2 separate regions of the Homo sapiens genome follow, and region 1 is linked to region 2. Evidence: fine-mapped expression QTL. A gene starts in region 2. The other region holds a variant in brackets. All regions are shown on one strand. Distances are between the middles of the regions.

What was found. PIP is the estimated chance that this variant, and not a neighbour inherited with it, causes the effect.
Region 1: its variant is the best candidate, but not a certain one, in a credible set for the expression of CALHM6 in nasal epithelium (TOPMed, PIP 0.66).

The regions. Positions count from the first base shown.
Region 1 is chr6:116,428,165-116,432,164 of GRCh38, forward strand. It overlaps DSE (dermatan sulfate epimerase), which reads left to right. Exons shown (of 6, transcript NM_013352.4): 4 at 2,790-3,029. Among named protein-coding and RNA genes, the nearest start is that of CALHM6, 31 kb to the right of the region's middle. The variant G/C (reference allele first, on the strand shown) is at 1,859.
Region 2 is chr6:116,459,542-116,464,076 of GRCh38, forward strand. CALHM6 (calcium homeostasis modulator family member 6) reads left to right here and starts at 1,834. Exons shown (of 3, transcript NM_001010919.3): 1 at 1,834-1,888; 2 at 2,331-2,913; 3 at 3,742-4,230. The coding sequence starts at 2,389. The coding sequence ends at 4,164. It overlaps CALHM6-AS1 (CALHM6 antisense RNA 1), which reads right to left and starts at 4,163. Exons shown (of 2, transcript NR_174951.1): 1 at 4,078-4,163; 2 at 937-1,653. RefSeq lists enhancers at 2,240-2,349, 2,360-2,439 and a silencer at 2,820-2,899.

The DNA.
Region 1 (4,000 bases), 32 kb before region 2:
GGCAACAGAGTGAGACTCAGCCTTAAAGAAATAAATAAATAAAATAGAAAGGAAAAGAAAATTAAAACATCAAAATGCAAACAATGTGAGAATCCACTAACAAACCATTTATAAAGCCCCAGGCCTGTGAAAAGACACCATCATGAAATGGTGAAAGGATCCCTTAGGTGAGCCAAATTTCTGCTTCAGGTCTTAAATTTAAGCTACTATAGTTTTATTTCCTTAAATAAATTTTTATTTATTTAAGGGAAGGAGTAGAGTTTATTTCTTCAGTCTTTGTAAATAACATTATTCCAAATAATAAGCAGTGACCCAAAATACTGGTTTGGATTGAATCAAAATATGTCATTTTGCCCTGGCAGGAATTTTCCTATGCATTTATTTTCTGATTAAAGTTATGGTGGCCCTGGCAGACACTCTTCCAGAGCCCCCACATAAGTACACACATTTATGACAAGACTAGACAGAAGGAGGTAGAAATCAGTTGGAAAGAAGACAGGTGTGAAATGTTTAAATGATTACACCATAGTTACAGTAACCCCAGAGAGTGAAATAAAAGATACCATGAAAAGCGTTATGGTTAAATATAAAATGAGTATATTAACTTGGAATTCAAGAAAGCAGTGTTCTTTCAGTAATTTTCTTCATGTAACTTTGAAGATGGATAGGAGAACTTAAGGGGAAATTAAAAAACATTCCAGGCAAGGTATTCGGGTGGCAGAAAAAAAATACAGGGTATAGCTTCAATTAACAGTATCAGTACCTTGTATTCACAGAGAGTTGCAGTTTACAAAGTATTTTGGTAGACATTGCCTCATGTCTTCTGAAGAGGGTTGTTGTAAGGAACAAATAAGGAAATTTAGGTAATGTGGTATCCTGGGAACAGTGATCTGATTTTAGGCATCAGTCACATTGGTATCTGGTGGGAGATGGAAGACACACAGGAAAAGGATGAAGATAATTAGAATTTTAAACCAGAATGGTAGAGAATGGAAATTGAAAACTATCCAGAATATTGACATATCAGGTATGATGCTGGGTGGCAGAAGAGGCCAGGGTATGATGATCAGTCACCTCTGCATACCCAAGCCTGACAGCTGCATTGCCCCCATTAGTCAGGAGCCAAGTCTTAGCCTGGGACCTATATTTAGGCCCAGAGCTGGTTAGATCTGGGCCTCTGGAAGCCCCACACCTGCCACATAGTAGGCCATGGTAGCGTGGTCAACATGTTTGTGGAAGTAAAGCAATGTGGCTACACCCACACCAGGAGGCATTGGGCTTAATTTTATTCTCAAGGGTTGCGTGTTTTAAAGGAAAACCTTAAATCTAAAGACCTAGGTTGAGATTAAAGTTGTGTTCATTTTTAGTCATGTGCCAGAGGTCTTGAACAAGTCAGCGTTTCTGTTTTGGGGCAATGATACATAATTGGGTTGTTAAAAGGATTAACTAAGATTCTGTTCAGTGCTGTGTAAGTTATAAATGTTATAGAAATATGAGGAGTTGGCCGGGCGCGGTGGCTCACGCTTGTAATCCCAGCACTTTGGGAGGCCGAGGCGGGCGGATCACGAGGTCAGGAGATCGAGACCATCCTGGCTAACACGGTGAAACCCCGTCTCTACTAAAAATACAAAAAAAAAATTAGCCGGGCGTGATGGCGGGCGCCTGCAGTCCCAGCTACTCGGGAGGCTGAGGCAGGAGAATGGCGTGAACCCGGGAGGCGGAGCTTGCAGTGAGCCGAGATTGCGCCACTGCACTCCCGTCTGGGCCACAGAGCGAGACTCCGTCTCAAAAAAAAAAAAAAAAAAAGAAATATGAGGAGTTGTTATTGTCAACTAAGTGCAACAGTTCTAGAAAGCTA[G/C]CATTTCTGAGTTAAAAGGTTTTATAACTTGTTATAGACTTAATTTTCAGTGGGGAGATTAAAATGTGACAGATGGAAGAATTGCTTGGACAAAATCATGTAGCTCATTTTTTGGCAGATTCAGGATTCCTAGTTGATTTTTCATTATTAGTTTGCCTTTCCAGTGGTTTCTCAGCCCCACTGTGCTGCCTTTTCAGATCCTGTGGAAAAGCACATAAAGGATAAGAGGTTACCTTCTAATGACAATACAAATTGAAGACTGTCCGTTTAGCGTTTATAATATGTGCAGCCTATTACAAATTCTATAAAATAATGATGCAAGTTTCACAAAGAGATAAACTTTTAAAAATATTTTCAAGTATTATATTTTTAGGAACACTGAATAAAAATCTTAATATACAAATCCTCTCTTGCCAACATAAAGTTATATGCATTTGTGATCTTACATGTGATACAGTTTATTAAAGACTGGAAAGTGACTGATACTCATTTAAGGGTTTCTCTTCATTTATAGAGTCAATAACTTTTTTTTTTTTTGAGACGGAGTCTCGCTTTGTCGCCCTGGCTGGAGTGCAGTGGCGCGATCTCCGCTCACTGCAAGCTCCACCTCCCGGGTTCACACCATTCTCCTTCCTCAGCCCCCCAAGTAGCTGGGACTACAGGCATCTGCCACCACACCCGGCTAATTTTTTGTAATTTTAGTGGAGACAGTGTTTCACCATATTAGCCAGGAAGAACTTCCTAACTTACATCATGGACTGTCACAACCTGGATTACAAGATGTTATTTATACACTGACAAGTTGGAGTTTTACAAAACGCGATTTGTAATATAAACTAGTTAGATAACTCAGAGGGTTTTATTGGCCATATTTTTGTTTATGCTTTGTCACAGGCTTTAGTCATTGCTTCCATGTGTTTTCATCCTTCAGGATATCTTCAAGAAGCCTACTTATGGACCAAACAAGTTCTGACCATCATGGAGAAATCTCTGGTCTTGCTCAGGGAGGTGACGGATGGCTCCCTCTATGAAGGAGTTGCGTATGGCAGCTACACCACTAGATCACTCTTCCAATACATGTTTCTCGTCCAGAGGCACTTCAACATCAACCACTTTGGCCATCCGTGGCTTAAACAACACTTTGCATTTATGTATAGAACCATCCTGCCAGGTATAGTGAGGAGTCAGAAGTGTGAAAACATTAAACTATTGTAATTTTTTCTGATTATGAAAATGAGCTAGACTAGGCAGAGAAATTAGGTCCTTAGAGTTTGTCATATTGAAATTAAATAGATTTTTTTAATCAAAGAAAAATTGAATTCAAGAGTTGCATATAGCCAGAACATTTTGGAGGCTAATGTGAGTATTTATGATTTAGGTATTATAAAGTTTGGAGGGTTATGGATTAAATACAATTTCTAGGCCCCTCAATACTTTTTTTTTATATATCCAAACTTGAGTAATATACGAACTCATCTTCATCATTGCAAGCAAAATATAAACATTTGTGATTACCTGTCAGTTTTCCTTTATATGTGATCCCTGATCAATCCTATTTTAATTTTTGGTTTTCAGTTTTTTCTTTCAAACTATACAGACATGATTCAAAATGAAAGATTACACCTACACATTTAAGTTGGAGCTTTAGTATTGTAATATTTTATTGAAGTAAATAGTATAGAAAAGTAAACAAAAAAAGTGCTGTAAAACTTGTAATTTCTTTATTGCTGTGTCATTTAGCCTTCTAAGAGAACTAGCTCTAAAAAAAATATATACATGATTTAATAATGTATTCATTTCCAGAGAACTTTGTAACCTTTTTTTATTTCTAAAACAGGACTAAGATGTTAGAACAAGTTATAAAGGAAAATTTTATCAGGATAGATTCCCCCCCTTCCCCAAGGAAATGCAATTTTTAGATGGTGATTCTAGACCTACAACAAATAATATAGTATTTAAATCTTTTGGCTCTGGTAGTATACATACAGATTAATAGAATCTCCATTATTGGACTAATTCAAAAATATTGCAGAGCATAAGAACCATTTTAAGATTTAGTTTAGACTTACATTCAAAAAAATACTGCTTTGTTGCTTTTTCTTAGACATGCAGGAGAGGCCTGTTTTGCAATTCATCCTAGTA
Region 2 (4,535 bases):
CAAATGAATTAATCTAGTTGGGGAAGGGGGCTGATAGATAAAAGTTTCTGTAAGTAAACATATTTCAAACAAATCCTTGACTAAATAACAGAAGCCAGGGAAGAGAAGGTGATGGACTTCATTAGAGTCTTAAAAAATGAAGGGAATGAAAACAGACCATAGGAATGAGGTGAAGGAGGAGATGGTGCTGATTAGATTGAGCCTCAGTGGATGATAAACTATTATAGCACAGTGGTAAAACCCTGGTATGGCTATCAGCAGGTAACCAGGAAAATGCCAGCCATCCCTCTTGGTTTGAGAGATGTGGGAGAATAAATTAATCTCACTCAAGAAGACAGAAGGATGCATTTTTATTAGGTTTCGGTTAGGGGAGATTTGGATAAAGCCATCTGCACAAAGGTTGTGGATATAGTGATGTTTCTGCATGATGGAATATGGGAAAGGGTGGACGAGAGAGGACACATCTTAGAGTATTATGGTAGAGGTGAAGAAGAGTCCAGCAGTAAGAGGAGAGTTACTCAAGGCACAGGGGAAGAAATTTATCTTGGGAGATGACAAATTACAAAGATAACAGTCAGAGCAGAAGTGATTCGCTTCAAACACGCAACTTTGCTGCAAGTTGACAGGAAGCCTAGCAGTATCTGGTCTAATCTCAGAGAAGAGGGCCCCAACTTTCCTGCATGACCATGAAGACCCTCATCTGGGGCTGGCCCCTAAACACATAGAAAAAAGATGTCTATTTACCACATCACTATGGAATGACAGCTTTTGGCACTACGCTAGGCACCCTGCTGGTGGTGTTGGAGAGGGAGTAGTTAAGAAGGCAAGTTGGACTAAGAAAAGAATAATACATTTCTTGTCCATTCTCTAAAAATTCACTTGGTTCCATGGGCTACCTATTCTTTCCAGATAAAATAAGGCAAGCCTGGTGGATGGGCACCAATAAGAACCATTTCATTGTGAACTGCCCACCCAAGCTCCATATCCAGATACTCTCCTTGTGGTGAAGCAGACAGCTAAGGTGTACACCAATTCTCTTAAGGTAGCAGAGTCATTGAGTCACTTAATACTATCCACTGAATTGATCCTCGTTTAAAATTCAAAATTCAGTATTCATCAAGATTCTTAGGTTATGTACAATGTAATTATTTGTTGTCTATTCCCCAAATTGCATTTTAAGGGGAAAACTCTCACACTGATCATTCATTTAACAGACATATCCTATATGTAAAGGCACTTTACATATGCTACTCAATCTACTCATGTCAGTAATCTTGAAAAGTGGGCACTATTATCCTTCTTTTACAAATAAGGATGCTGTGTCTCAGAGGGGCATACTTGTTAAACACACCACAGACAAGATGCACTTGACTTCAAAGCCCATGTTCTTTCAAGCACACCTCAGCTCAGTCTGGAGTCACACAGAGTAAGGCTCAATATCACAAAAGTGGTTACAGTGTTTGTGTCAGAACAACGCTGCTTGAGAAAACTGAAGGTGGAGGAAACAACATTAGATAGATGTAGCTGCAGTTTGAAATTTTGGGTTCAACTAGCATTCTTTGAATAATCATGTATCCCCTTCTGTGCAGATCAGCTTGGTGGTCAGAGTCAGAATTTTACTCTCCTCCAGGCATTGACAGTGTTATGACATATCTGAAAGAAAAGAACATTGTATTGACGAGTAAATCAATACAGTATATTTGGTCTAATGTCCTGAAGGAGATCAGGCAGAGGAGAGAAGAGTCAGTGTGAACTAGGCTGGTGGCTCTGTCCGGTAGGGAGATGGAAAGGGTGCCGCCCATCATAGAAGTACCAGAACTTGAGCTGGACTTTGCTGATTTAGCTTATGGAAGAGGAACCAGAAATTTGTCCTTGAATAATGTTTCCCGTAAGTAATCAGTTTTTTGATAATTATTTGGTTTTACTGTGATCTGGCTTAGTAACTAGGGTGGCTGCAATAGAGGAAAATCTGGTATTTCCCAGTTTTTCCAACTGGCGGCCGTGGGTCAAGAAGGTTAGTTTCCTGGTTCGTTGTCAGATTGGTGGTAATAAAGGAACAAGGTCAACCTTCTGTCAGAGTTCCTGAATTGGGGGAGGAAGATAACTGGTGCCTCTGCCTTTGGAATGGGGTGGGTGCCAGAGAAGTCAAGGTCCTGGGGGTGTTTGCTTGCCTGGTTCTGTTAACCAGAGGTGGTGTGGCTGAAATGAGAAAGTGAAACTTTAGGAAGGTCTGAGAAGCCCTCTTCCCTTTAAAAAAAAAAAAAAAAAGGCTGCTTCTCGCAGAGTGGAAAGCCCCGGTCCCCATCCCACCAAAACCATTTGACAAGCAGGACAACGAAGAGGCAGAAGGATCTGGGCCTGTGCGCGACGCCCCGGGGGACGAGGCTCATGGAGAAGTTTCGGGCGGTGCTGGACCTGCACGTCAAGCACCACAGCGCCTTGGGCTACGGCCTGGTGACCCTGCTGACGGCGGGCGGGGAGCGCATCTTCTCCGCCGTGGCATTCCAGTGCCCGTGCAGCGCCGCCTGGAACCTGCCCTACGGCCTGGTCTTCTTGCTGGTGCCGGCGCTCGCGCTCTTCCTCCTGGGCTACGTGCTGAGCGCACGCACGTGGCGCCTGCTCACCGGATGCTGCTCCAGCGCCCGCGCGAGTTGCGGATCGGCGCTGCGCGGCTCCCTGGTGTGCACGCAAATCAGCGCGGCCGCCGCGCTCGCGCCCCTCACCTGGGTGGCCGTGGCGCTGCTCGGGGGCGCCTTTTACGAGTGCGCGGCCACCGGGAGCGCGGCCTTCGCGCAGCGCCTGTGCCTCGGCCGCAACCGCAGCTGCGCCGCGGAGCTGCCGCTGGTGCCGTGCAACCAGGCCAAGGCGTCGGACGTGCAGGACCTCCTGAAGGATCTGAAGGCTCAGTCGCAGGTCTGCCGCTGGCGCTGGGGGCGTTTGGGAGGAGCCGAGAGGCCGAGCTTTCTCAGGGCCGCTGGGGTGAGGGAAAAATCGGTGACTTTTCTCCAGATATACAGTACCCTAAGAAAATCTAGAATGGCTCCTTGCATCTAATTTGCCGTCAAGAGAATATCTGAATAAAACGAATGAAAAGGAGAAAAACGCATTCCCGTAGTATCTGGCACTGTACATGAATCGTGGAAAGTGGGAGTGAGAGTGGGCACGCCTACTCAGTGCCAGATACTGCGCTAGGCCCTTGACCTCCTGCATTATTTTTACGTCTCACAACAGCTCTGTTGGGTGCAAAATTGCGGTTTTGCCATTACAAGTAATAGTTTCGTATCTCCCCTATATAGTGACTTCACTGAGTCTAAGTAAAGTTGTTTGCCCAGCCAATAGAAAGCAGAATTGTTAGAATTAAAGGGGTCTATAGAATAAAATGGGTTTGTCTGGCTCTAAAGCCACCACTGGACTTAGAAAGCTCAGAGGTTCTTTAAAATGAACACTTCTTTCCCAGGATTTGCAGAAATTCCACATTTTGAGTTCTAAGGGAATGGTATGGGCTCCTCCCTGGGCAGAATCATAGTGCATAACTTGGACTACAGTTGACTTTCCAAACGAGAAGTTGTACTGGGGGGCTAGGGAGGTTACTGCGACACCTTACTCTTAAGGAATTAAGACCTAAAACTGTTGCTTGTTCATCATCATAACTGGCGAGTAGTTGAAACTTTATCTGAGGATTTTTAAATTTCTTGTAAAAAACCAAGTAACTAAATTACTATTTTGTTGTGTTTTCTTAAGGTGTTGGGCTGGATCTTGATAGCAGTTGTTATCATCATTCTTCTGATTTTTACATCTGTCACCCGATGCCTATCTCCAGTTAGTTTTCTGCAGCTGAAATTCTGGAAAATCTATTTGGAACAGGAGCAGCAGATCCTTAAAAGTAAAGCCACAGAGCATGCAACTGAATTGGCAAAAGAGAATATTAAATGTTTCTTTGAGGGCTCGCATCCAAAAGAATATAACACTCCAAGCATGAAAGAGTGGCAGCAAATTTCATCACTGTATACTTTCAATCCGAAGGGCCAGTACTACAGCATGTTGCACAAATATGTCAACAGAAAAGAGAAGACTCACAGTATCAGGTCTACTGAAGGAGATACGGTGATTCCTGTTCTTGGCTTTGTAGATTCATCTGGTATAAACAGCACTCCTGAGTTATGACCTTTTGAATGAGTAGAAAAAAAAATTGTTTTGAATTATTGCTTTATTAAAAAATAAACATTGGTATTTTTTGAGTGCTTTTTTTCTTCCAAATTGTGGAATTTTATATCTGAAATTAAAATATAGAGCTTAACCTCTTTATAATATTATTTAAAACAAACAAAAAAAGAAAGTGATTCATCCAAAGTAAAAGCTAGAACTAAAAGAAGTCTTATATCCTTGTTCTAGAGTCCTTTTCAAATAAAAGACTTTTGGAGCAAAAACAGTGGCAGAACAATTGAACTTCAGACATTTCTGTTAGGTTATCTGATGTTAATTTCAAGTTCATTTTCTTGCCCACAACATCTTGTTAGGAACTTTAAAATTACGGC